Homo sapiens: one gene and its partners. The protein of the gene in region 3 purifies or fractionates together with the protein of the main gene of each other region. This does not show direct contact. Each region holds a gene or a part of one and is shown on either strand. Other genes may lie near its edges. The genes, in order: MARCHF8, RAB11A, TFRC and VPS51.

Region 1 (7,025 bases), on a different chromosome or scaffold from region 3:
AAAGACATGTAAATGACCGACAGCTGCATGAAAAACTGCTCAGCATCCCTAATCATCAGGGAATAACAGATGTTGGTGAGGATGCAGAGAAAAGGGAACTCTTATGTATTGTTGGTGGGAATGCAAATTAGTACAACCAGTATGAAAAATAGTATGGGAATTCCTCAAAAAACTAAAAATAGAACTACTATATAATCCAGCAATCTCACTACAGAGTATTTCCCCAGAGGAAAACAAATTAGTATTATCAAAGAGATATCTGTACTCCCATGTTTATTGTAGCACTGTTCGCAAAAGATATGGAATCAGCCTAAGTGTCCACATCAATGGACAAACAGGTAAAGAATTCGTGACACATATACACAATGAAATACTATTCAGCCATACAAAAAGAATGAAATCATGTCATCTGCAGCAACATGGATGGAGGTCATTAGCCAGACACAGAAAGACAAATATTACATGTTCTCACTCACATGTGGGAGCTATAAAAATTTGATCTCATGGAGGTAGAAAGTAGAATTATAGGTACTAGAGGCTGGGAAGGGTGTGCATGGAGGCAGGAGTGGGGGATAAAGAGAGATTGGTTAATGGGTACAAAAATACAGTTAGATAGTCACAATAAGTTCTAATGTTCAATAACAACAGAGTAGGGTGACTACAGTTAACAATATATTATATACTTCAAAATAACTAGAAGAGAGGTTTAAATTGTTTCTGACACATAGACATGATAAATATTCACAGTGAGGGACACCCCAAATACCCTGACTTGATCATTACATAGTCTATGCATGTAACAAAATATCAGAGGTACCCCATAAATATGTACAAATAAACTAAAAAAAGAAAACCAATCAAATGTGATTTCAGATACTACACAATGATATAAAACTTTGAGTTTGTTCTTTAGAAAATGATTAAGCAAACAGCAGCAAGGGAAGTACATAGGGTGAGGACTGAGTGTGGATGGGGCATCTGGGGAACATCCTCCAGGATGGCTCGTGGGCCCACATGGTCAAGGACCCTGCGGTGAGGTGAAGGTCTGGGCAAGATGCATGGCGATTTCATGGGGGCTGCATTCCAGTGCCCGTCTTTGTATAAAGCATGTCACCTGTGGGACTCAAACTGCCTCAAACTTCTCCAAGCACCCAGTCAATTAAACAGATTTTTTTCCAAGGGGGGACATTCTGCTGCTTCTAAAAATATAAGATTTTCTACACACTGCTATCATTACAAACTGTGATAGGTGCTATGAAGAAAGAGTAACAAAACCCAAATGGGTGATAAAATTTAGACTAAGGGGAGGGTGTCAAGGGTAAGTGCCTCTAAAGAAGCTAAGAACTGAAAGAGAAATGAGTTAGGAATTTTAGCCATTCATGCAAAAAAGGGGTAAGATTGGGAGAGGCCTCTCGGACAGAACAAAAGGTGCGCAAATAGGAATTTGGCTTGTTTGAAAATCATCAAGGTAGACACCATACCTAGATCATCATGACCAAGGGGATATTGCACAGGATCAGGTTCCAAGTGGCCAGGCCCAGGTCACCTTAGATGTGACAGCTCAAGGTAGTGTAATCAGAAACACTGAAGAATTGAAAAGAGAAGCATTAGGAATTCTACTTACTGGCTACTGGGTGCTAGATGGTTTGGGATAGATTCTTGAGAAGCTACTGCAGGAGTTTAGGAGGCCTGGGCCTGGGAAGTGGCTGGGATGATGAAGAGGGATGAACCAATGGGCTGGGTATCAAGTGTCTAGCAGAACAGCATGCAAACATTGACTCAGCATGTACTGACAACCTCCAGGGCTCCATCCCATCACTGGTTCTGCAGATTTAGGGGTAAACAAAGCATGGCTCTACACTCATGAAGGTTACATGTGGGGTGAAGGTGCAATGGAAAAAAATTCATGAAAACCCAGGCAGTGATAAGTGCGATCCTGAAAAATAAAAGGAAAAGGTGACTTTGGACCCCTTAGGATGTTAATTGGAGGTGACAAATTTCATGAAATCCCTTGGTAACAGAGGCTCAACAAATGATATCCATTAACATTGTACTATCAATACAAAATAAGTATTGGGTGAAGACTTTGCCATTGTAATTGCTTAAATATCCCAATATGCTTCTTCTATTAACTCCTTAAGGGGATCAAATCCAGCTGCCCACTTTGAAGAGAGGCAAGCCACCACAGACCTAGCAGCCTCATAAACATCTCATCCAACCTACCTGCTTCCTTCTTTGAAAATGGAGCCTGGTTTTTAAAGTCAATATGCTTCCAATACACACTGAGACACTTTGTAATAAAATCTAGATGGAATACTAGGAGGCATGATTAAAGGTTTATTTTTTACCTCTTTTCAACCTCTAAATTTACGCCAGCAAGAGGTGAACTGCAGAAGCATAAAGCAGACTGCAGTGACTGGCTCATGTGCTGACCCCAGCTGGGGTCTAAAAGTCAGCAGAAAGTCTCCTGACAGAGACAACGGGGATTTCAGGTAGCATACAGTATGTCCACATTGTGGCCTCCTTTAATCTCAAGAGTATGTCTGCTATACTGAAGATACGATTTTACATGTCACGGCCTAAAACTGGCTTCAAACAGCAGGTTCATTTAATAAATACTCCAATAAAAAAACTGTCTTCTCAAAAACAGTTATCTTCCACAGGGGGCCTGCCCTCCCTTCCTTGGTCCCACTGAACTGGTTCATGTCTAACCACCTTATACAGCATGCTAACTATCTTCGTTACAAAAGGGTACACTTTGCAACAGAATTTCACGTTGACAGGTTAACCAGGAAGTTCTGTGAGTAATCAAATGTTCTAAAGGCTCACTCCACTCAGATACTCTCCAATGACCATAGTAAGCATCCCGGAACTCACTGGACACACTAAGTGTCCAGTCGCAAACAGCACACAGTAAAAATGTATTCAAGAAGGGGCCGGGCACGGTGGCTCACGCCTGTAATCCTAGCACTTTGGGAGGCCAAGGCGGGTGGATCAGGAGGTCAGGAGTTTGAGGCCAGCCTGATCAACATAGTGAAACCCTGTCTCTACTAAAAATACAAAAATTAGCTGGGCGTGGTGGCACGCACCTGTAATCCCAGCTACTCAGGAGGCTGAGGCAGGAGAATTGCTTAAATCCAGGAGGCGGAGGTTGCAGTGAGCCAAGATTGCACCACGGCACTCCAGCCTGGGCTACGGAGCGAGACTCTGTCTAAAAAAAAATGTATGCAAGAAGGAAAAAATAATGTATGGTTCTCCATTGTTCAGCAATAAATAATAAAGCTACCATTAAATGAACTGTCCTGGCCCAATCAACCTAAGGTCACCAGGATTCAACGAACTTTGACAAGAGTCAGGTTTGTTGGCTCAGTGTAATGGGTGAGCTGCCCCATGGTTCCATGCAAATGTTAATCCCAAGACTCGGAACAACCCTGAAGGTTGTATTATTACCCTACTTTTTTTTTTTTTTTTTTTTTTGAGACGGAGTTTTGCTCTTGTTGCCTAAGCTGGAGTGCAATGGTGTGATCTTAGCTCACTGCAACCTCCGCCTCCCAGGTTCAAGCGATTCTCCTGCCTCAGCCTCCCAAGCAGCTGGGACTGCAGGTGTGCACCACCACGCCTGGCTATTTTTTTGGAATTTTAGTAAAGATGGGGTTTCATCATGTTGGCCAGGCTGGTCTCAAACTCCTGACCTCAGGTGATCCGCCCGCTTCAGCCTCCCAAATTGCTGCGATTACAGGTGTGAGCCACCACGCCTGGCTTACCCTACTTTTACTGATAACTAAATTAAAGCTCAGAGAGATGTCCTTTTTCAAAATCACATGGCTAGTAAACCATCATCCATGTTAATTCCAAAACCCTTACAAAGCTCAAAATACCCACAACCCAAGCCAGGACAATAGCCTTTCCTCTAGACTTTTTAAGATGGTGGTTTGCAAACAGTTTTTTTTAACTATAGGAAGAAGTTTCCTTTAAATAAAATGTGACTGAAATCCATGAATGAACAGGTACATATTTAAAGCATAGGATGTCCTCCTTCAGAACTGCCCTTGGCTACTAGGGCAAGGCGACATACATGTGTTACTGAGCGTTTTTTAACACATTTAATTCAACTTAAGCAAACAGGCCATCTGCAGCTGCACCTTCTCACTTTTCTCCGTGCTTAGACACTGATTAGCTCCTTTAAAAGGTGCAAAAATGGGCAGCAATGGTTTACCACTGCATAGTTCTAGCACTGCAGCATTCCTGGCCAAAGGGACAGCAAAAGAAAAGAAATGGAGGTTGGATGGGAAAAAATATTTTGTGAAAGGCATTCCTATTTTTAACGCAAAATTAAGCGGAAGAATAATATAATTAGATTACAAATATGCCTAAGAACAGACAAATGTCTTAAGAAGGTTTGCCAGAGTTTACTTTTAGTCTTAAAAAAATAAGGTGACCTGAATGAAAACATATATGTAGTCAGCACATTAAAATGGCATATAATGTAACTGTTCATTTCAGAGTATCTAGGAGGCCTGAGACAGCAGATAGACTTTGTCACTTGTTCAAATCCTCCCAGCTGAATCTGTGGTGTGTTTGGCCATATGCCAAAAACATGGGGAAAAGGTCCACCCTTACAAAGAACTTTCATGGCCTTAACTGTATGGCGAAGGGGTTGGCCAGAGTCAATGTGTGGGCTGAGAGAGGAGCACTGCCTGGAAGCAAGCTCACTGCATCAGATACACTCTGCTGGTTCCCAGGCCATACCCTAGCAGCCAGTGTGCTCCTGGTGCGCTAAAAAGACCACACCACAGGTGAGGAGATGCTGTTGGATGGCTGATTCACTTCCCAAGCCCTCCTTTCCCTAGCTGCCTTCCAGCTAGAGGTGGCCTGTGATCCAGTTCTGGCCAGGGAGATGTAAGCAGATTTCAGGCGGCCAGGTGGGACTTGTGGGACAACTTTTGCCTTCCTGCTGAAAATGGTGACTCTCAGCTAACAGACCTGTTAATCCTTGATCAGTCCTCTAATTCCTGCCAAGGCCACAACCGCAATGCCTGAAGGTCCAGCTCTCATCGTGAGACCATGTGTCAAGTAGGAGATAGCACAGAGAGGAAAGAGCCTGGGTCCCTGGCAACATCTGTTACAGGGAGCCGAAGACCCATGGGACGTGACCAACTCAGCATTCCCCTGGAGACTATATGATCAAACAGCAAACCGTTCATCATGAATGCAGGATATGAGCAAACTCACGACTGCTCCGGCCGACTGCTCCTGCCAACAGAAGGTTTGCTGGAGGCAATCACTCCCTGGCGCCAAGGTTCTCTACTGCAACATCTAGAACCTTTTGTTCAAGGAATGCAGTCTTGCAAGCCTACTCTAGACTGAGCAGCTGACCCCTTCTTCCACCCGCCTTCTCACTATCTCTTTTGCCTAATAAATATGGAGGGCTGTGTAAAGCTCAGGGCCCTTGTCCACTAGAGCCAAGATGCCTCCTTCTTCCAAATATACTCTTTTGTCTCTTGTCTTTTATTCCCGCCTTCACCCCTTGTTCAGTTCCCCTAGGTCCATGCGGGTTACACAGTGGCACCCCGAACAGCCACAGAATCGGGTGCACTACAATCTGTGATCAACTCTGCCCTGGATCACCTGCTTCCAGACACCTTGTCAAATGAACCATATAAATCCATAATTATGTAAGTCATCATAGTTAGCTTTCTGTTACTTTCAGTCAAATATATTCCTAATTGTGGCAACAGACTCTCCTGTGCCTGAGATTTCTTCTGCCTTAAAGTATATGGTTTTCTGGAAAAAATGGAATTTTCTCCCAGAAGTCACTTCCCCCAACACACACTCAAAATTGCCTTACCAGAAAAATGTAACTGCCACATACCTCTTATGGTCCCAGAACAGATTACAGAAATGTATCAAGAACTCTAACGTCTTTTCAAAAAAAAAAAAAAGAGTATAAACACATGTAAGGCATAAGAACAGAAAAGACTCAAGGTAATAAATAACATTTTTCAGTGGCACTCTACCTTAGAAATGTTGCTTGAATGACTCATGAAATGTCCCAAAGTCTTCTCATTCTGCAAGAAAATCAAACAGGTTTTAATTATCAATCTTTGATTAAAATATGCAAAGAACAAGTAATTGATCACAACAACCCTACTGACAAATCATTCCCTGAACTAGAATTTGCAAAGCACAACCTACTATATACTAGATGTATGTAGCCAGGCAGTAAATATTGCACATTTGGGCAAAATGAATACACAATAGTCCCTGTCCTAAAGGATTTAACATTTTATTTAAGAGATTTAATTTTTTATTATCAGGAAAAAATAAGAGTTTAGAATTCACTGTCAAAATAAGATGGTAATAAGTGTCTTAAGTCACATTTCACGTGAAAGTTCAGATGGTGATAAGTGTCTTAAGACACATTTCAAGTGGAGAGGCTGCATGCTCAGTTGTATGTGACACAGTCCACATTATGAGGAGTCACGGCGAAAGAGTGAAGAAAGTAGGACAGCTGACCAGTCCTGGGGTGTCTGGCTAACAAAGTGCTGAATACTCAATCGGGATATCACACAGCTCACATCTCCTTCAACTCAGTTTCTCCTCCTGGAGCAGGGAAATCTGGGAGCCATGCCAGCCTCCTTCCTCTCATGCCCCTCCACATTCAGTCACATAGTCTTGTATCAAATTCTTCCTCCTCTCAATCACAACTCATTTTCATTTTTATTGACAATGCTTTAGTTTAGATTCTCTTCATTTCTCAGCTAGAATTCTTGAAGAATAACATCCCACCTGGCCTTTTTGCCTTTAGGTTGACCTCCCTGATACACAACTATCATGGGCTAAACTGTGTATTCCCCTCCCTTCTGTGAAAATTTAGATGTTGATGTCCTAAACTCCTTCTTCCTCAGAATATAACTATTTGGAATAGGGACTTTAAAGATGTAATTAAGTTTACATGAGGTCAATAGTAGTCCCGGCTACTCAGGAGGTGACTCTAATCCTAGTGGACTCTAATCCAATAGGAT
Region 2 (7,025 bases), on a different chromosome or scaffold from region 3:
CCTAATACGATGTACTAGGAAAGACACAATGTATTCCTATAAAGGACACCATGTATTCCTGACAAAAATATTTAAAACTAATTTAATCATGAGGAAATAATGAGATAAATCCAGACTGAGATGGGGATAAATGTTCTAAATTTGTGCTATCCAAGAGAGTAGCCATCTATTTTAATTAAATAAAATTTAAAATCCAATTCCTCATCTAACTAGCCACATTTCAAGTGCTCAATAGTAACCTGTGGCTACTTTATTCAACATCCCAGATACAAAACAATTCCATCTGTTAAGGCTCAGAAACCCATACTCCAAAATGGCGTTTTGATATGCTGAACTAAAGAAGCCTCAAGGTCTCTCTGACCTTCTCCCCCTCATCCTCTCTCCCTGGCACAGGATGAAGCTGAAGTTCCTTCATCTGCCTGAGATCCAGACCCACTAAAAGGGACAATTGTTTTTTCTTCCCCTCCCTGTAAGATCAAGAATGTAACCACACTTAAACAGACTCTTTCACGAGATAATGTACCAATTAATTTCTGTCCACTGATCCGTTCATCCTCCCCAGTAATCCCCTCAACAGAATTCCTTTTCTCCTCCTTCCCATAACCTGTTTTGCCAGAATGGCATAAGCCTCTGAATGCCATTGGGAGGTGGGTCATCTCTCTGGTTCTCCCCAGAGAAAACCAGTGTACAGTGTACATGTTAATAAATTTCGTATGCCTTTTCTCCAATTAAAATGCCTTTTGTGAGTTGATTTTCCAGCAAACTTTCAGAGGTTTCTATTTAGATCTCCTACAAGAGAAATCTAAATGATATAAAAATGATAAAGCAGGATTCTTTTTCTTCCTAACCTCTACCTATCGTTTGGACCTCGTGAAAGGTCCAAAGCTGTATCAGATAGCTTTCAGCAAACCTTCAGAGGGCAATAGGGACACTTCCCTTGGCTCCTATACATGTGATCTTTAAATGGATCTTGAATTTTTTAATTAAAAAACAAATCTACAAAGGACATTATTAGTATACTGAAGAAATATGAATATGGATTGCACATTAAAAACTGTATAAATGGGCCAAGCGAGGTGGCTCACGCCTGTAATCCCAGCACTTTAGGAGTCCAAGGCGGGCGGATCACGAGGTCAGGAGATCAAGACCATCTTGGCAAACATGGTGAAACCCCGTCTCTACTAAAAATACAAAAAAAAAATTAGCCAGGTGGGGTGGCACCCGCCTGTAGTCTCAGCTACTTGGGAAGCTGAGGCAGGAGAATCGCTTGTCCCGGAGGGGAGGTTGTAGTGAGATAGCACCACTGCACTCCAGCCTGGGCAACAGAGCACACTGTCTCAAAAAAAAAAAAAAAAAACTGTATAAATGTTAAATTTCTTGGATACGACATATGGTATTGTGATTATGTAGGAGAATGCCTTTTTTTTTGAGACAGAGTCTCACTCAGTGAGCAGTGAGGTTGAGACTGCACCACTGCACTCCAGCCTGGGGACAGTGTGAGACCCTGTCTCCAAAAAAAAAAAAAAACGGTGGGGGCGACTGCATAGGAATTGGTATATTCATTTGGTTCTAAAGGAGAACATGCCTTTGAAAGAAGGAAATAGATCTAGTTTAGCATACCCCCCCACCCCCACAAAACTCCCAATGAAATAACCTTCTCTAATCAGACAGCTAGAAGTTACCTGCTTCCTACTTTCTTATCAGGTTTTTGGTTTGGTTTTTTTTTTTTTTTAATGACACACCCAGCCACAAGAGACTTAAGTATGTAAATTACTTGTGGAACCTCTTAAAGCCAATCACTCTTTATTGCTTTGGTGGCATTTTTATTAGCAGACATCCTTTTTGGTAACTGGAGTAAGTGCAGCAGTAATCTATTTCTAAAAAACAGTATGCTGTACTTGTAACACACCAACACTGCTCAAATTTCTTGCTTTGTAATGAGATCTCTTTAATTATTTACTTCTCTATGTTCTTTGAGAAGTCTGCCTTTCCCTCTCTTCCAGTTTTACATATATTTGTTTTTTATGTAAGAACTTTTCTTTGTTTTGGTTCCCCTAATTTAATCTTCAAAACAATTTATAAGGAAGTTAAAACTTACAGTGGGTTACATATTTCATCTTAATTTACACACATAATTTACACTTGAAAAAGAAGAGCCTCCCAGTTTGAGACTAGAGGGAAAGCTTAAAGATGCAAGTTAATTATCTTTATTCCTTAGCCACTCATCTGATTGAATGACTGAAAGGTAAATCCTTTTCTTTAGCCTTGGCACCCTCCCATCCCATCCTTTTTCATTGAAACAAAATCTAAATAAAGATTCCATATCCTTTTTTTTTTTAATTTTAATTTTAGTAGCCTGTCTTTATTGAATCCTAGTTGTCTTTCCTTAATGCCTCTTCACATTTGAACCACTGTCAACCTTCTCAGACATAAATTTTAGCCACTCCCCTTCCCCCACAAAAGAATCTAAGAAAAGATACACTTGCTGTCTGTTTTTGTTAGTTTACATATTCAGTTGACTACAGCTTACTGTTTTTCAACTTCTGAGAAATTAGTTCTTAATTTTGGAAAATGTAGTAATTCAGTTAATACATCTCTAACTTTTTTTTTATGGAAATTTTCTGACATACCAAAAGCAGAATAAGGCCAGGGGCGGTGGCTCACACCTGTAATCTCAGCACTTTAGGAGGCCAGGCGAATCACGTGAGGCCAGGAGTTAGAGACCAGCCTGGCCAACATGGTAAAACCGGTCTCTACTTAAAATACAAAATTAGAGAGCATGGTGGCTCAGGCCTATGATCCCAGCTACCCGGGAGGCTGAGACACGAGAATTGCTTGAACCTAGGAGGCAGAGTCTTGCCTGGCAGAACAAGACTCAGGGGAAAAAAAAAAGAATTTAGTGTTCATGCTAAAAAGATATCCTGGACATATTAATTACATGGAGAAACCTAGCAGACATCACCTTAACCAAGTGGTCAAAGTTAACATCACTAGTAATTAATAGGACATCCAATTATCACAAACCTGCTGATATGATGCACTGAGAACACTTCTGTGGTGTTCCTGCCAAAAGTGTATAACTTGAGTTTAATCATGAGGAAAGAAATCAGAAAAGCCCAAAATGAGGTACACAACAAAATAACTGGACTGTACCCTTCAAAAATGTCAAGGTCAATAAACAAAAGATTGAGGAACTGTTCGAGATTAGAGGAGACTAAAGAGATATGACTGCTGAATGAAACGCATGACCTGATCTTGGACTTTCTTTGGCTAATAAGGGTATTATTGGAACAACTGGCAAAATCTGAATAAGGTCTGTAATTAAACACTGATGTGGCACTATTATCTAACTCTCTGATTTTGATAATTATACTGTGGCTATAAAAGAGAATATCCTTGTTTTTACAAAATATACACTGAAAAGTACTCAAGGATGAGGGTCATCATGTCTGCCACTTAATCTCACATGGTGCCGAAAAAATATGTATATATTTAGAGCGAAGAGAAAGAAAAGGACAAAGCAGATGTGGTAAAATATTAACATCTGAGGAATATGGGTGAAGGATATTTGCAAATTCTTTTTACTATTATTTCAACCTCTTTAAATTTGAAATTGTCAAAATGCAAAGTTAAAATAAAAAAGTAAAAGGTATGTATTAAAAACATCCTTTAGTGAACCTGAGAAAAGACAAAGCTGTACTGAAATTCAGAGGCGGAGCAATCTACCAGTCTCACTCTCATACTAGTAAACTACCTCTAAAAAAATACCATCAGCAAAATCATCTCATGGAGTCACTTTCAAATTCATGGGTGTCAAGAATGCCATGGGTCTATTCTGAAACCAACAACACAATTAACTCTGAAGTAACAATGTAAATTTTCTGATATATAATTTTACAACTTAAAATTTTTGGCCAGGCATGGTGGCTCATGCCTATAATCCCAGCACTTTGGGAGGCCAAGGCAAGCAGATGGCTTGAGCTCAGGAATTCAAGACCAGACTGGGCTCCATCTCAATTTTTAGAAATTTTAAAGCTATTTTTTCTTTCAGCAATATCAAAACACAACGTAAATACTCCCTTAAGACTGTTAACATTTAAGGTAGAATCAAGTGCAATAAAGAGTCTGTCCTCTTCACTGTTTTCTCTATGCATTCACACTTCCACTGGCATACAGGAGGAAGAAAGTTTAGAACAAACATCCTAACACCTGCAGAACAACACAGATGTCTGCTGCCACATGCAGTGATCTCTGATCCTACAGACCAACAGTGAGATTTATGCAGGAAGCTGAGGAAACAGTGAATATAGAAAGGAAAAGTGGTAGCAAGTGAAACTAAAGTCTTCTTTGCTTTCAAGCAACAATTAAGCTGTAACAAAAGTTCAATCTAGAGTGAATTTTAAGAAAAGCAACTATATGTTCATCTTTTTTTTTCTTTTTGAGACAGGATCTCACTCTGCCCACAAGGCTGGAGTGCAGTGGCATGATCTCGGCTCATTGCAGCCTAAACCTCCCAGGCTCAAGCAATCCTCCCACCTCAGCTGGGACTACAGGCGCACACACTACCATGCCTGGCTAATTTTTTTGTGTTTTTTTTTTTTTTTTTTTTTTTTAGAGACAGGGTTTTACCATGTTGCCCAGGCTGGTCTTGAACTTTTGAGATCACTGCATGTGGCAGCAGACATCTGTGTTGTTCTACAGGTGTTAGGATGTTTGAGCTCAAGCGATCCGCCTGCCTCAGCCTCCCAAAATGCTGGGATTACAGGCGTGCATCAACATGCCCAGCTCTTAAAGGGCTCAATTTTAAGTACCGACTAGTTCATGTTTGAGTGGATCAGAAGCTCAATGTTACAAAATGATGCATAAAATAGTTAACTGCAGATGGAAGACTTGGGCTCATCTTCACTTAATATCAGAATAAATGGGCCAGAATTACAGCAGAGGAGATTTGATGGAACATAAAAAATATTCCAACAATGAGGACTGTCTAAAAAGTTTTTTCAGATGAGACTTTCTGAGGCCTTAAAATGCTCACACATCTTTAAGGTAATTTAATTCACATGTTTTAAGACTATGACTCTGAGGAGCAGGGAGGTTCAGTGACTTTAGTTAAACGGGGAGTAGAAGCAAAGTGATAAAAATGTAATGCCCTAGAACTCCTGGGTCTCAATCTAGTACTCTACATGTTGACTTAATAAAATGTACACAAATGGCTATAAAGAAAACAAGGACTTGCAGACATACTACATATTTAATCAAATCTTGCTTGCTTAAAACAATCTGCAGTGAAACTTTGACAGAGAACATTCTAAAGGAAAGCTACTGTGTTCCAAAGACTGCTTATCCAACCCCAGCACTATTCTTCTGATAACAGAAAAGAATTATAATAAAATAGGTACATAAATCTCCAATTTTCTCATGCCTTAATTGCCGTTCAGCTACTAATTTGCCAACTGTTCTCTATATACCAGGGATAGATAAGTAATTTACAGTATTCAAAATGGGTACTTTACAGGTACTCATTTTTGAAGTCTAGGGCAGTGACAGACCATTCTTTGCTAAGGGTTACTGAGACAAAAAACCTTTAGGTCACAAAAGTCAAGTCAAATCCTATCACAAGATTTTATAAATATAAGCCTTCTCTCAAAAAAGAAATAACAAAACTCCTCAAAATATATATGAATTTTATAGATGGAGAAATTAAGGCCTAAAAGGGTTAGGTAACTTGCCTAAGATTGTACAACTAACAGTAAGTGGAGGAGCCAGGACTAGAACCCAAGTCAGGCTTCCAAATCTTAACTCCTTGACTTTACGCTTACATTTTTACAGTAAAAGAAGATAACATGTTAAAGTTAAAATCTGTTAATCTCTAATACAGGGGCTGCATACAAACAATAAATCAAAACTTGTTACATTATAATTGGAAACTCAATCATATCTCTGTATAGACTTTTTAGAACAATGCCACGTAAAACTATACTATATATTAAGACCACATTTTAAATCATGAGTTCTTAAAAGTAACATACAATTTAAAAGTATTTAAAAACAACCCATCAAAGTACTAATTAGAAGATTAAGACTAATCTTACTAATAAATCTGGTTATTCTAATAGTTTCAGGATAAATATGAGTGAACACTTCTTATCTCAGAGGCTGACCTGGTCATTCACATTCCAAAACAGCATGAACTCCATCTCTTTCCAACTACTTTTTAAAACTTTTCTATATGCAATCATTGGCTGATTTTATCTACCAATTATCTCCCATGATACAATATAGAATACGCAAGGGATACCCTTCTTCTGTATCATGGGAGAATTTTATTTTGTCGCTATAATTTTTAAAAATGTTTTTTCCCTAGCTTTGCCTTTACTAAATTTAAAAAAGGGCATTTATATCTTTCTATAGCTGGGATCTCAATATTTACCTCATAAAAGTACATTTAAACATTACTTTGTGACCATGAAGAATGGAATACCTGGACTGAAGTAATAATGGAAGTGAATGAATTATTTTCAAAGTATTTTTCCCACTATAAATCAGATGAATTAGGACAACTGAAGCTCAGTGAGCAAGGGTTGTAGTTAATTTTGCACTCTAAACAGCTTTTGCTAGAGTAGCTCTCAAATGATAGTCACTCTCGGCTGATATATAGTTTAGTTACTGATTAGTTTGTTTAAATTACCTTCCTAAAACTTCTAGTCCTACTGGTGTAATCTGAAAATACAAGTCTTACCTGTTAAAATTGTCTGAAAAGCAGCTTCTACATTTGTAGAGTCTAGGGCCGAAGTTTCAATGAATGACAAACCATTCTTTTCTGAGGGGAGACACAAAAGTTCAGTCTTGTTAAGTTTTAAAACAAGGAATAGGATATACTCAAGCCCTCAAAAGGAAAAATAACAGAACTTTTTAAAACTTAAGACCTCCTCAACTTCTGGGACAGTAAGGGCACCATTCTGTTTACACTTTATTTATTTACTTACTTTATTTACTTCTTTATATAAGTAGAGATGCAGGTCTCA
Region 3 (7,025 bases):
CTCAAAAAGATGAAAATCTTGCGTTGTATGTTGAAAATCAATTTCGTGAATTTAAACTCAGCAAAGTCTGGCGTGATCAACATTTTGTTAAGATTCAGGTCAAAGACAGGTATGTTGAAAGATGGTAAACTTATTTTTATACAAGTAGCTATTTTCAGGTGTGCTAAATATAGCAAAGACTTTTTGTTAGTGTTGTTGGCTTTTTTTTGAAATGGAGTCTCGCTCTGTTGCCCAGGCTGGAGTGCAGTGGCACAATCTCTGCTCACTGCAGCCTTTGCCTTCTGGGTTCAAGTGATTCTCCTGCCTTAGCCTCCAGAGCAGCTGGGATTACAGGCGCACGCCACCACGCCCAGCTAATTTTTGTATTTTTAGTAGAGGTGGGATGGTCTCGAACTTTTGACCTCAGGTGATCAGCCCGCCTGGGCCTCCCAAAGTGCTGGGATTACAGGCGTGAGCCACCGCATGCGGCCCAAAGGCTTTTAAAATAAAAATCAAGCTTAAGATTTAGAGGTAAATTTCCTCAAGCCAAATAATGCAAGACATACTAAATGTAAGCTATTGTGTTTTTTGGAAGGATGACCTTAGGCTTATTTTAACTTAATCTTTTTAACAGCGCTCAAAACTCGGTGATCATAGTTGATAAGAACGGTAGACTTGTTTACCTGGTGGAGAATCCTGGGGGTTATGTGGCGTATAGTAAGGCTGCAACAGTTACTGTAAGTAAAGCAAAACAGTGCATGAGACTCTTCCCTATTGAATCATTCAAAACTCATCTTTTCTGTTCTTAGGAGTTATAAATTTACCTGTAAAATGTAAATGATCATGAGATATTTTGGTTTTCAACCCTCTAATGACACAGTCAACATGCATTGTCTTCTCTCTCTAATCACTTTCCCCATGTCCTGTTTTATTTTTTCTTTATAGTACTGCTAGCAGCTGACATTATCTATGCCTTTGTTTCCATTAGAATGTGAGCCAGATGAAGAATCATGGGTTAGTTCTATTTACTGCCATGTTGCAGAGCTTTGGAGAATGCCTGACATACATAGTAGTATTTGCTAAACAAATGCATATCCTCCCTGTGGGGACAGATGTAAATATCCATCTTGGCTGGGGCCTAGTCTTAGCTTGATTCGTTAATGCTTGATCTTTTTCTATTTTTGTTTTGAGACAGGGTGTCACTCTGTTGCCCTAGCTGGAGTGCAGTGGCGTGAGCTTGGCTCACTGCATTCTCCACCACCACCCAGGCTCAAGTGAGCCTCTTGAGTAGCTGAGATGTCCAGTTAATTTTTATTTTTTATTTTATTATTATTATTATTATTATTATTATTATTATTTGGTAGAGACAGGGTTTTGCCATGTTGGCCAGGCTGGTCTTCAATTGAAACTCCTGGGCTCAGGTGATTCACCACCCTCAGCCTCCCAAAGTGCTGGGATTACAGGAGGAAGCTGCTTCGCCCAGCCCTTGATCTTTTTAAATTTAGGCAAATATAGTCAAATTAACACAGAAATAGAGAACAGATAGATAGAATAATTTTCAGCTTAAAAATCACATTTGTGGCTGGGCGTGGTGGCTCACGCCTGTAATCCCAGCACTTTGGGAGTCCAAGGTGGGTGGATCACCTAAGGTCAGAGCTACCAGCCTGGCCAACATGGTGAACTCTATTAAAAATACAAAAATTAGCCAGGCGTGGTGGTGGGTGCCTGTAATCCCAGCTACTTGGGAGGCTGGGGCAGGAGAATCGCTTGAAGCCAGGAGGTGGAGGTTGCAGTGAGCGGATATTGCGCCATTGCACTCCAGCCTGAGCAACAAAAGCGAAATTCCATCTCAAAAAAAAAAAAAAAATCACATTTGTAAGTCAGGCGTATCTCTAGTGGATACCTTTCGGGGCTGGTGCAGTTCTGTGTTGATTCCTTGCCTTTCTGGATACTTGTGCTTTATCCCTTTGCCTGGCTGCCTATAAGCCAGGAGTTTAGAGATGGGTAGGTTGTTCTGTTAAAGAACATTGAAGATTTTTGTTCAACTTCAAGCTTTCTGTATTGAGGGCTTGGTTGTTAGTGTCAGTTTATGGCTGTTCATCTGGACTCTTATGAGCTTAGGAACATCATGACACATCTAAAGTTGGTGTATGCAAGTCACTTTGTTGTAATAGATGGTGTTTTAATTTTGGGACAGATTTATTATCAGACCTTTCAGTTAAAACCTATTTCTATGATGTCCTCAAGGCTAAGATTGTTCCAGGCCTCCAGTCCCATGACCAGCCTACATAGGCCTCTTTAATCTAAATGCCCTTCAGATGAAAGGCAGCATGGGATAAAAGCATGAAAGACATAGGAGGCCAAAAATCTTGATTTTATTCCAATAGCTCTGACCTAAAAGTTGTAAAGTTTTTTAGAACTCATGTCTTTTTTAGGCCTTGGCCTCCTTTTATCTCTTACTTGGGTTGCCTGTCTTAGGTTTGATCTATAACACTCTTCTGTCTCAAGATTTTAGAGCTGTTCCGATACCATAATGCTCATTAAATCTAATGTCTTTGTTCTAGGGTAAACTGGTCCATGCTAATTTTGGTACTAAAAAAGATTTTGAGGATTTATACACTCCTGTGAATGGATCTATAGTGATTGTCAGAGCAGGGAAAATCACCTTTGCAGAAAAGGTGAGTATGAGTTATTATAATATTAAATACAGTACTTTTGGTATCTTACTCTTCAGGTAAGTGATATTTCTTGTTAATATTCTTACATTCTGAAAATCAGCAATCTTAAACTCTCATACCAGATAATATAATTTATTAAAATGCTCAACAAATGAAGTAAGTTCCACTTACCTAATCAGAAGTGCTTAAGTGAAAGCTATTTCTCTGTATAACTCAGTTTTACGCATATACAGAATTCAGCTAAAAGCATGTTTTATAAAAAGGAAAATTAATAGCCAAACATACACAAGGAACTAGAGTGGAACATATCAAAAGACAGTGGTGATTTCTGCATTTTTAAAAAAAGTGGCAGGGCTCACACCTGTAATCCCAACACTTTAGGAGGCTGAGGTGGGAGGACTGCTTGAGCCCTGGAGGTTGTGAGATGTGACTCGTGCCACTCCAGCCTGAGTGACAGTGAGACTCAAAAAAGTGGTTGTCTTAGATGGGTTTTTGTTATTTTTCTTTTCTTTTTTTTTTTTTTTTTTGAGACGGAGTCTCTTGTCACCCTGGCTGGAGTGCAGTGGCGTGATCTCAGCTCACTGCAACCTCCGCCTCCCAGGTTCAAGTGATGCTCCTGCCTCAGCCTTCTGAGTAGCTGGGATTACAGGTGCCCACCACCACCATGCCTGGCTAATTTTTGCATTTTTAGTAGAGACAGGGTTTCACGACGTTGGCCTGGCTGGTCTTGAACTCCTGACGTCAGGTGATCCACCTGCCTTGGCCTCCCAGATTGCTGGGATTACAGGTGTGAGCCACCACTCCTGGCCTTTGTTATTCTTTTTTTTTTTTTTTTTTTTTTTTTGAGAGGGAGTTTTGCTCTTTTGTCCAGGCTGGAGTGCAGTGGCGCAATTTTGGCTCACTGCAACCTCTGCCTTATGGTTTCAAGCGATTCTCCTGCCTCAGCTTCCCAAATAGCTGGGAATACAGGCGCCAGCCACTGCGCCCAGTTAATTTTTGTATTTTTAGTAGAGACAGGGTTTCACCATGTTGGCCAGGCTGGTCTCGAACTCCTGAGCTTGTGATCCCCCTGCCTCAGCCTTGCAAGGTGTTGGGATTACAGGCGTGAGCCACCACTCCTGGCCCGTTACTCTTATTTTGCAAACAAGTGAGTTAATTTTTCAGGAAGCAATTAATAAATTACCAGATAAACAATTTGAAATATTTGGAAGTATTATAAGTTTAGTCCTCTGTAACCATTTGGCCTTTAGCATAATGTCCAGGATGTATTCTCATTTCGTATGATCAGATCTTCATTTTCTGAGCTTTATATGTTTTCTTTTAGGTTGCAAATGCTGAAAGCTTAAATGCAATTGGTGTGTTGATATACATGGACCAGACTAAATTTCCCATTGTTAACGCAGAACTTTCATTCTTTGGACATGTGAGTTATTTCTTGAGTAAATCACCGTTTTGAGTTCCTTGAGTTGTTCTTGGATTCCTGTATTAGCAGAAATAGCACTGTGTCTTCCTTAACTGCTCTTTTTTCTGGGAGGGCGTTAGCAGTAAGCAAGAAGATAGATTACATTGACTTTGAGGCTTTATTATTTGTTGCTAAAAGTACTTTGTCAATAGTGCCTTGAATTTGAGAATTTCCATATGCCATGAAAACAGGAGTCACATTGTAGAGCCACTCAGATTTTTGAGGCTTCAAGTTGGTAAACTAAGGTTGGGCTGCAGCCTTATACCAAACCTGAATCTTACAGAGAAGTTTTGAGGAAGTATGTGATGGAGTGAATTGCTCTTTTGTTTTCCTAGGCTCATCTGGGGACAGGTGACCCTTACACACCTGGATTCCCTTCCTTCAATCACACTCAGTTTCCACCATCTCGGTCATCAGGATTGCCTAATATACCTGTCCAGACAATCTCCAGAGCTGCTGCAGAAAAGCTGTTTGGGTAAGTTTTTATTTGAAAGCGGTCTTGCATAGTGAGGTTTTATGATTAGGGAAGAACGGTAATATGTTGATTAAAATGTTAAACATGATGATAATTTTCCACATTTGGGAATTTGGAGGATGGTTAGCTGTTACCTTGGTACAGATATAAATGAATTTTTCTCTATAAAGAGATCTTAATAATGGACTTTGGACTTATAAACACAGGAGAATAAGGAGACTTATAAACCCAGTGAATTCCTTGTGCAAGATTCCTGGCATAGCTTCTGCTCAAGTACTTCTGTGCTGAAGCACGATGCCTATAGCAGCCCATTCAGTTAGTAGAGAGAATCTGTTAGAATTCATATTGGGATAAAATCCTATTCCCCGAAACATCCATTTGTCTGGATTTTTCTTCTAAGCAATACGGTATGATTCCAGTTACCTTGTCTATAGATTGAGAAGCCTTGCTTCTTATGATGGTTTCCAGAGAAACCATTTATGGTTGTGGCTCGCTCCTCTGGATATCCTCCCTGTAACGTTAGTGTCTCTCTTTAAAAACAGAGCCCAGTTCCATTAGAGTACGTAGCATTAATTTTGATTTGGATGTGGACATATTTATCATTTCCTGTTATTACAGGATGGAGATCTAGTTTCAGGCCTTTATGAAAGCATTTATCTCCTGTATGACATAGGTTCTCTGATCCTGTTTCTTTAACATAATTGGATAGTGAAAATATATTCTACTTGATAGTCTCAAATGAAGAACATCTGTATATAAGGAGTATATGAAATACCATGACTGTTGATCATGCTGAGAGGCCTTTAGCATAGGGGAGTGTGTAACATACCATGACTATTGATAACGCTAAGAGGCATTTAGCATAGGTGATTTTTTTGACTCATTCTACCTACCACCTACAAATCGTAACCAACCTGTGAAGCCAGCGTCCCATCTTATCCTTATGTAGTAGGGGAGTAATAATGTTTCAACCTATATTTATGTAAGTAAGCCCCCTTAGGAGCAGCTATTATTTGGGTAACACAGAGGAATTAGATAGGGGAAGCACAAGATTTTTTTTTTATTTTGACAGTCTCACTCTGTTGCCCAGGCAGGAGTGCAGTGGCATGATCCTGGCTCACTGCAACCTCCACCTCCTGGGTTCAAGGAATTCTGCCTCGGCCTTCCAAAGTGCTGGGATTACAGGCGTGAGCCACCGCACCCAGCTGAGGAATATTTTTTATAACTGAGCTAAGAATGTGTACTATCCTTGTTAGTGGTGACAGTTGGGAAACATAAAAGTGTATTAATATTCTTTTATATATTAGAAGAACTTCATTTTGAGTCCATCTTGGTATGTATTCCAAATATAAACTACGTAAGTATGTCTGGCAGAAAGGCGCATAGTTAGAGAAGTGTTTTAAAATATTGCTTAATTAATGGTTTCCAATTGGCTGCCTGCAGATCAAAGTAAGACGCAAATGGTTCACCACTAGAGAGTAAGTTTTTTTTTGTTTTTATTTTGTTTTGTTTTGTTTTGTTTTTTTTTGAGACAGGACTTGTGCTCTGTTGCCCAGGCTGGAGTGCAGTGGCGTGATCTCGGCTCACTGCAGCCTCCGCCTCCCAGGTTCAAGCGATTCTCCTCCTCATCCTCCTTAGTAGCTGGGATTACAGGCGCATGCCACCATGCCCAGTTAATTTTTGTATTTTTAGTAGAGTCGGGGTTTCACCATGTCGGTCAGGCTGGTCTTGAACTCCTGACCTTGTGATCCACCTGCCTCAGCCTCCCAAAGTGCTGGGATTACAGGGGTGAGCCACTTCGCCGGGCTGAGAGTAAGTTTTGTTTATATGTCCTCTTAATCTGTAACTTCACTGGACAGGAGTAAACCCTGGGCAAGGAACAATAACTCAGAACTTACGCCTGCTTTCTGATTCTAGGAATATGGAAGGAGACTGTCCCTCTGACTGGAAAACAGACTCTACATGTAGGATGGTAACCTCAGAAAGCAAGAATGTGAAGCTCACTGTGAGCAATGTGCTGAAAGAGATAAAAATTCTTAACATCTTTGGAGTTATTAAAGGCTTTGTAGAACCAGGTAAAGACCGCCCCCCCCCCCCCCCGCCCCGCTTTTTTTTTGTTTTCTTTTCTGTTCCTAAGGATGTGGCTAGAGAAGGAGCGAGTGTAGGAATGCTGGCTTGGCTTGGTTTTATGAAGTGCTCAATCTTGTCTGTCCTAAAGTTAATTGTTTATGTGTTAGTTTCTTTTTTTTTTTTTTGAGAAAGAGTTTCACTCTTGTTGCCCAGGCTGGAGTGCAGTGGTGTGATCTCGGCTCACTGCAATTTCCGCCTCCCAGGTTCAAGCCATTCTCCTGCCTCAGCCTCCCCAGTAGCTGGGATTACAGGCATGCGCCACCACGCCTGGCTAATTTTGTATTTTTAGTAGAGACAGGGT
Region 4 (7,538 bases), on a different chromosome or scaffold from region 3:
GCACTCCAGCCTGGGCGACAGACCAAGACTGTGTCTCAAAAAAAAACAAGAACAAAAACAAAATTAGCCGGGCATGGAGGCGCATGCCTGTAATCCCAGCTACTCGGGAGGCTGAGGCAGGAGAATCGCTTGAACCTAGGAGGTGGAGGTTGCGGTGAGCCGAGATTGTGCCATTGCACTGCAGCCTGGGCAACAAGATCAAAACTCCATCTCAAGAAAAAAAAAAAAAAAAAAATATATATATATATATATACACACACATATATGTATGTATGTATATATGAATATGTTCTTGTAAAATATTTGCATAATACACAAGCATGCAGAGGAAAATGTAACAGTCTCCCTGCTGCATCCCCACCACTGAAGTACCCCCTTCCCCAGTTTGGTGACTTGGCATCTTTTAGGTCCCTTCTTTATGTAACGGTAACTTCATACATCTAGATGTACATATACATGCATAAGTTTAAAGCATTTTTAAAAATCATATGTTTTGTCAAAGTGTACTTTTCAAAAAGTTAAAACCTACGTCTAAATATAGAATGAACACGTAACAAAGATTTATTAGGCCGGGTGCGGTGGCTCATGCCTGTAATCCCAGCACTTTGGGAGGCTGAGCTCCCAAAGTGAGCCTGAGAGGATCACTTGAGCTCAGGAGTTTGAGACCAGCCTGGGCAACATAGTGAAACCTCCTCACTACTAAAAATTAAAAAAAAATAAAATTAGCTGGTTGTGGTGGCCCTTGCCTGTAGTACCCCCTACTTGGGAGGCTGAGGCGGGAGGGTCATTTGAGCCCAGGAATTCGAGCCCTGCTTGCATCTTTGCAGTCCGGCCTGGGGGCATAGTGAGACCTTGTCTCAAAAAAAAAAAAAAAAAAAAAAAGATCTTTAACTCATCAGTGAGGGGATTTCCGCTTGGTAAGGTGGTAATGCACATGAGGAACTGGACAGGACGAGCATTTAAAGAGGAACGTTAGGCCAGGTGCAGTGGCTCATGCCTGTAATCCTAGCACTTTGGGAGGCCGAGGTGGGCGGATCACCTGAGGTCAGGAGTTCGAGACCAGCCTGGCTAACATAGTGAAACCCTGTCTCTACTAAAAATACAAAAAAACTAGCTGGGCATGGTGGTGTGCACCTGTAATCTCAGCTACTCGGGAGGCTGAGGCAGGAGAATCACTTGAACCTAGGAGGCAGAGGTTGCAGTGAGCTGAGATCGCGCCATTGTACTTCAGCCTGGGTGACAGAGCAAGTCTCAAATAAAATAAAATACAATAAAGAAGAATGTTAGCATATGATTACTAGGTTAGATGCAAAATGCAATGGATGTCCTACATGACAAAAATTATACCCTTTGAGGTTAGTTTTTCTACTGGATATACATGTCTTTCATCTCTCCTGGACAATATCTCCTTGTAATTTCAGTCTATTTACCTTACTAGTGAATAGCAAAATCAAACAACTGTGTATTCTTGTGGGTAAATAATCCTTGGGAGGGCTTCTGAAACGATGCCCCAGTGTGACAATGAGAGGACACACTACACTCTTGGACTTCCAATTTTTGGATTTTTCCTTTTTTTTTTTTTTTTTTTTTTTGAGACGGAGTTTTGCTCTTGTTGCCCAGGCTGGAGTGCAATGCCACAATCTCAGCTCACCGCAACCTCGGCCTCCCGGGTTCAAGCAATTCTCCTGCCTTAGCCTCCCGAGTAGCTGGGATTACAGGCATGCGCCACCAAGCCCAGCTAATCTTGTATTTTTAGTAGAGACGGGGGTTTCTCCATGTTGGTCAGGCTGGTCTCGAACTCCCGACCTCAGGTGATCCACCCACCTTGGCCTCCCAAAGTGCTGGGATTACAGGCGTGAGTCACTGCGCCCAGCCTAATTTTGTATTTTTAGTAGAGACTGGGTTTCTCCATGTTGGTCAGGCTGGTCTTGGACTCCCAACCTCAGGTGATATGCCCACCTTGGCCTCCCAAATTGCTGAGATTATAGGCGTAAGCCACCACGCCCTGCCTGGATGATTTGTCTTAACACTATTCTCCAACTTTTAAAAATGTTTATAGACTTCTTGGAGTAGACCTCAATCTATACCCTTTTTCATTTTCTTAAGATTATAGCTTCATAGGCTGAAATCAAGTATTTTAAATGGTTTCTAGACATCCCATTGATTCAGAGGTCAGCAAACTTTTCCCGTAAAATAGTAAATATTTTAGGTTTGGAGGACCATGCAGTCTCTGTGGTAGCTACTCAACTCTGCTCTGTGTTTTTTTTGTTGTTGTTTGTTTGGGGTTTTTTTTTGTTTGTTTTTGAGATGGAGTTTTGCTCTTGTCACCCAGGCTGGAGTGCAATGGCATGATCTTGACTCACTGCAACCTCTGCCTCCTGGGTTCAAGCGATTCTCCTGCCTCAGCCTCCCAAGTAGCTGGGACTACAGGCGCCCGCCACCAGGCCCGGCTAAGTTTTTGTATTTTTAGTAGAGATGGGGTTTCACCATGTTAGCCAGGCTGGTCTCGAACTCCTGACCTCGGGTAATCTGCCTGCTTTGGCCTCCCAAAGTGCTGGGATTACAGGCATGAGCCACCGTGCCTAGCCTCAACTAAGCAGCCATAGATCATATGTTAAAAAATGGGCGTGACTGTGTTCCAATAAGAGTTACGGAAAATGGGATATGAATTGCATATGATTTTCAGGTGTCATGAAATGTTATTTTTTTCCCAACCATTTACAAATGAGAAAACCATTCTAGCTCACAGACCATATGAAAACAGGTGGTGAGCTGTGTTTGGCCTGCAGGATCCCTGGCAAAGAACAAGTAAACCAGTGAGTTTTTCCATTCCAACCTTCCTCCAACAGCCCTTCATAAGTAATGTTTCAAGGGCCACTTTGATGAAGAAAGTCTTTTTCTCTTTTTCCTCCATTCCAACTCTGTGTCCTAATCTGAACTCCAGATCGTTCCCTGTCTTCATGAGCTCTTCACCTTTGTGCACAGCTGCACTTTTGTCCAAGTCAGAACCCTGGGAGAGCAGCTCAGGAGGCTGAGGTGGGAGGGGAGGTCAAGGTTGGAGTGAGCCAAAGATAGCACCACTGCACTCCAGCCTGGATGAAGAGCAAAACCCAGTCTCAAAAAAAAAGGAAAAGAGAACCCTGAGAGTTATCCTCCACATTTCCACCTAACCCTTCACTCAGCACATTCCATCAGTCACTTAAGCTCTGCTGAGTCTGTCCTTTTTTTTTCAATAATAGGGGGCGGGTCTCACTACGTTGTCCAGGCCAGTATTGACCTCCTGGGCTCAATCAATTCTCCCACCTCTGCCTTCCAAAGTGCTGGGATTACAGGCGTGAGCCACTGTGCCCGGCCTTAGGGGTTCTTAAATGTGAGTGTGTATCAGAACTACTTGGGAACTTTCTAAAAAGAAGCTAGATCTGAGAGAATCCCAGAGTCTTTTTTTTTTTTTCTTGCTTTGTTGCCCAGGCTGGAGTGCAGTGGCACCATCGCAGCTCAAGCAGTTCCCCCACCTCAGCCTCCCGAGTAGCTGGGACCACAGGCGTGCGCCATCATCCTGGCTAATTTTTGTTTTGTTTTTTTTGAGACAGAGTCTCGCTCTGTCATCCAGGCTGGAGTGCAGTGGCGAGATCTAGGCTCACTGCAACCTCTGCCTACCGGGTTCAAGCGATTCTTCTGCCTCAGTCTCCGAGTAGCTGGGACTACAGGCGCGCGCTACCACACCCGGCTAATTTTTGTATTTTTAGTAGAGACGGGTGTTTCACCATATTGGCCAGGCTGGTCTCCAACTCCTGACCTTGTGATCCGCGCCCCCACCCCCCCGGCCTCCCTAAGTGCTGGGATTACAGGCGTGTGCCACCGCGCCTGGCCTGTATTTTTTTTTTATAGAGACGGAGTTTCGCCATTTTGCCCAGGCTGGTCTCGAACTCCTGGGCTCAAGCGATCCACCCGCCTCGACCTCCCCAGTGCTGGGATTACGGGAGTGCCCGGCGCAGCTCAGCGCAGAGACTTACAATGCGCCACAGATAGTCCTGAAGGCAATTCTGATGCACGTCAGAGGACCAGGCCCTAAGAAGAACTGCGCTAGAGGCGTGGTACAGAATAGTGTACATGCATTTAATCCTCGTAGCCCCCCTGTGAAGTATGTACCCCAATTTTAGGAATGGGATAAACTGAGCCACTGCCAGTGGCAGGATCCCAGGAACACTCTACTCTGGCCTCACGTCCCGCATCCGTCCATTGCATCTGGGCACATATTCCGTGGGCCCCTTGCCTGCGAGAGTGCAGGTTGGGGAGCCACTACCCGTCCCCCTTCTGGGACAGCAGCAACCCCAGGCAGTTCCACAAAATGCTTCCACCCAGGAAACTGGGGGAATTCAGGGCTCTCCCGGAACCTTTGCACCCGGGGAAGACAGGTGCGGGGGAACTCTAGTCTCGAAGGACCTAGGGCTGCAGGGGGACGTTTCACCTGAAGGACTGCCTCGTTTCAACAACAACTTTATGGCTCCCGGAAGTGCCTCCTCCCCGTCCCCTTCCTTTCCAGCCTCACGCCCGTGGGCTGCAGTTGGAACGATGGCGGCGGCAGCTGCCGCCGGGCCTAGCCCGGGGTCTGGACCTGGGGACTCCCCAGAAGGGCCCGAGGGGGAGGCTCCGGAGCGTCGGCGGAAGGCGCACGGGATGCTGAAGCTTTACTACGGCCTCTCGGAAGGGGAGGCGGCGGGACGCCCCGCGGGGCCCGACCCCCTGGACCCGACTGATCTGAACGGGGCGCACTTCGACCCGGAAGTTTACCTAGACAAGGTGTGTGCGCACGGGGAGTGGGGGGGTGCGGGGAGGGGGGAAGGGAACCAGGCCCCTGCTATATTGCTCCCCCAGATCATGCCTCCGACTTTTTGTGAGGTTCAGGAGAGCAGGTGTTCATAAGAGGACGAACCTCGGCCAGGGAGTACGAGCAGCTGAGGCGTCTGAGGGGATGTGAGTAGGACTGGACTGGCCTGAGGTGATGCGGCATCTGAGGTCTTCTGGGCTGATGTGATAGGCCCGGAATTGGGGGCGTGGCCCAAGCGTTGACAGGCGCGGGGCTGGGCTTAGGCCGAGCCCCAGGATTTCAAATGCTGACAAACACCAAACACGGTTGAACCTAGTAACCCCTGAGCTAGGCCACTTAGGGCCCCCTGCCTGGGATTCCTGACAGCCGGCGGGGGTTTGCGGGGTGGGTGGGGATCAGAGATTTCTTGCCCTGAAAGCCTATCAGCTGCAGGCAAGGCTGGGGGACATGAATGCCTCCTGACCCGAACACTAACCACCCAACTTCTTCAGCTGCGTAGAGAGTGCCCTCTGGCCCAGTTGATGGACAGTGAGACGGACATGGTGCGGCAGATCCGGGCTCTAGACAGCGACATGCAGACCCTGGTCTATGAGAACTACAACAAGTTCATCTCAGCCACAGGTGATCCCCACGGGGACACACCCTCCAAAGTCTCACAGCCCCCATTCTCCCACCTGTGTTGGGAAAACCAGCAAGGGATTTAGAGGGGGGAGACTCAGATTCCAGTCTTGTCCTGACATTATTCCATTCTCACCTCCTTTCCTTTGAGCCTTCGTTGTCAGACTACTATAGAGATAATAGCTACTCTCAGAGGGTTGTCTTAAGTACCAAAGGAGAGAAAAGACAAAAGGAGATTAGTTGTTTATTTTTTAGAGACAATGTCTTGTTCTGTCTCCCAGGCTGGAGGGCAGTAGCATGATCATGGCTCACTGCAGCCTCGACATCCCAGGCTCATGTGATCCTTCTGGATCCTACCAAAGCACTGGGATTACGGGTGTGAGTCCCTGGCCCAGCCCAAAATGAAATTTTAAAATGAAATGTATTTATCTGAAGCACTTAAAAGGCCAGGCATGGTGGCTCATGCCTGTAATCCCAGCACTTTGGGAGGCTGAAGTGGGAGGATCACTTGAGCCTAAGAGTTTAAGATTGACCTGGGAAATATAGTGGGACTCCATCTCTACAAAAAAATAAAAAATAAAAATTAGCTGGACAAGATGGCGTATGCCTGTAGTCCCAGCTACTCAGGAGACTGAGGAGGGAGGATCACATGAGCCTGGGAGGTCGAGGCTGCAGTGAGCTGTGCTTGTACCACTTCACTTCAACTTGGGCAACAGAGCAAGACCCTGTCTCAAAAAAAAGAAAGTATCTATCTGAAGAAGCATCCCAGACACTAGGCTGGGCACAGTGGCTCATGCCTGTAATCCCAGCACTTTGGGAGGCCGAGGCAGGTGGATCACCTGAGGTCAGGAGTTCGAGACCAGCCTGGCCAATATGGTGAAACCCCATCTCTACTAAAAATAAAAAAATTAGCTGGGTGTGGTGGCAGGCACCTGTAATCCCAGCTACTCAGGAGGCTGAGTGGGAGAATCACTTGAACCTGGGAGGTGGAGGCTGCGGTGAGCCAAGATCACGTCACTGCACTCCAGCCTAGGCAGCAGAGCAAGACTCTGTCTGAAAAAAAAAATAATAAGAAGAAGAATCCCTGACATCAAGGAAACCTCAGTAAGGTGTAGTTTCTCTTATTATTGATAGCTTTCTTTTCTGCTCCAGGGAAGAATAGGTGGTCTTGTCCCTCCCTTTCTTTCTCCCTTCCTTCCCTCCTTAACTAAGCAAAGAGAGAAGATGTATGATATTAGGGGACACAAAGATCATGTCGAGGCTTTTTTTTTCTTCTGTCCTCTTTATTCTCTAGTGCCAGACAGTGTTCCACTGTTTTCCACACTAGCTTCTGTGCTGTTTTGAGGAGATGTACTACTCAGACTTTTGTAGTAATTGTACACCCACGTGTAGTAAGTCCAGGAGCCAGATCCAAAGGGTTTACCTGCAGCCTGTGGAATGTTCTGGGAGCATCTGTGGGGTTGCATTCTGATGTCTTACTCTCGTGTCACAGTGGTGGGTGTGGTAACCTATACACATTGTTCTTTTATCTGATTTGAAGCAGATTCCATGAGTAGGCACCTTTCTGTTAGCTAATACCAGCATCAAAATGGCAAGAAATCATAGTTTCTGTGCTGGGATATTTCTCACAGGAATTTAATAAGATTACATTTTCCATTTGTTGGAATGTGTATAATAATATTTTGAGACTTAGCTCTTTTTGTACATCCCACAAAAGGAACAAACGTTTGGAAAAGTGTGAGGATAACCAGGAGCATTGATGTCTTAGAAGCTTAAGTGAGGGGCCGGGCATGGGGTTCTCACCCGTGATCCCAGCACTTTGGGAGGCTGAGGTGGGTGGATCACTTGAGGCTAGGAGTTCAAGACCAGCCTGGCCAACATGGTGAAACCCTGTCTCTACTAAAAATACAAAAATTAGCTGGGCAAGGTGGTGCATGCCTGTAGTCCAAGCTACTCATGAGGCTGAGGCAGGAGAATTGCTTGAACCCAGGAGGTGGAGGTTGCGTGAGGAAGGTGTTTCAAGACATAGATTTGATAGACTTGGGCGAGACACTCAGGAAAGTAATGTAGCATGGAGTGTGTGTTGATTGGG

The links.
Region 1: the proteins of TFRC (region 3) and MARCHF8 purify together in Homo sapiens (affinity purification with western blotting; 4 studies listed by BioGRID, with this or other methods). This does not show direct contact.
Region 2: the proteins of TFRC (region 3) and RAB11A purify together in Homo sapiens (affinity purification with western blotting; 2 studies listed by BioGRID and IntAct, with this or other methods). This does not show direct contact.
Region 4: the proteins of TFRC (region 3) and VPS51 purify together in Homo sapiens (affinity purification with mass spectrometry; 2 studies listed by BioGRID and IntAct, with this or other methods). This does not show direct contact.

Annotation. Positions count from the first base shown.
Region 1 is NC_000010.11:45,483,350-45,490,374, forward strand, and holds part of MARCHF8 (E3 ubiquitin-protein ligase MARCHF8), read right to left. Parts: intron 6,069-7,025; coding exon 6,018-6,068; intron 1-6,017. UniProt on the Homo sapiens protein: E3 ubiquitin-protein ligase that plays several important roles in innate immunity and adaptive immunity.
Region 2 is NC_000015.10:65,879,466-65,886,490, reverse strand, and holds part of RAB11A (ras-related protein Rab-11A), read right to left. Parts: intron 6,821-7,025; coding exon 6,740-6,820; intron 1-6,739. UniProt on the Homo sapiens protein: The small GTPases Rab are key regulators of intracellular membrane trafficking, from the formation of transport vesicles to their fusion with membranes.
Region 3 is NC_000003.12:196,065,087-196,072,111, reverse strand, and holds part of TFRC (transferrin receptor protein 1), read left to right. Parts: coding exon 1-109; intron 110-613; coding exon 614-716; intron 717-2,543; coding exon 2,544-2,657; intron 2,658-3,981; coding exon 3,982-4,080; intron 4,081-4,454; coding exon 4,455-4,594; intron 4,595-6,511; coding exon 6,512-6,669; intron 6,670-7,025. UniProt on the Homo sapiens protein: Cellular uptake of iron occurs via receptor-mediated endocytosis of ligand-occupied transferrin receptor into specialized endosomes. Endosomal acidification leads to iron release.
Region 4 is NC_000011.10:65,091,679-65,099,216, forward strand, and holds the start of VPS51 (vacuolar protein sorting-associated protein 51 homolog), read left to right. Parts: upstream 1-4,535; 5' UTR 4,536-4,572; coding exon 4,573-4,800; intron 4,801-5,319; coding exon 5,320-5,449; intron 5,450-7,538. UniProt on the Homo sapiens protein: Acts as a component of the GARP complex that is involved in retrograde transport from early and late endosomes to the trans-Golgi network (TGN).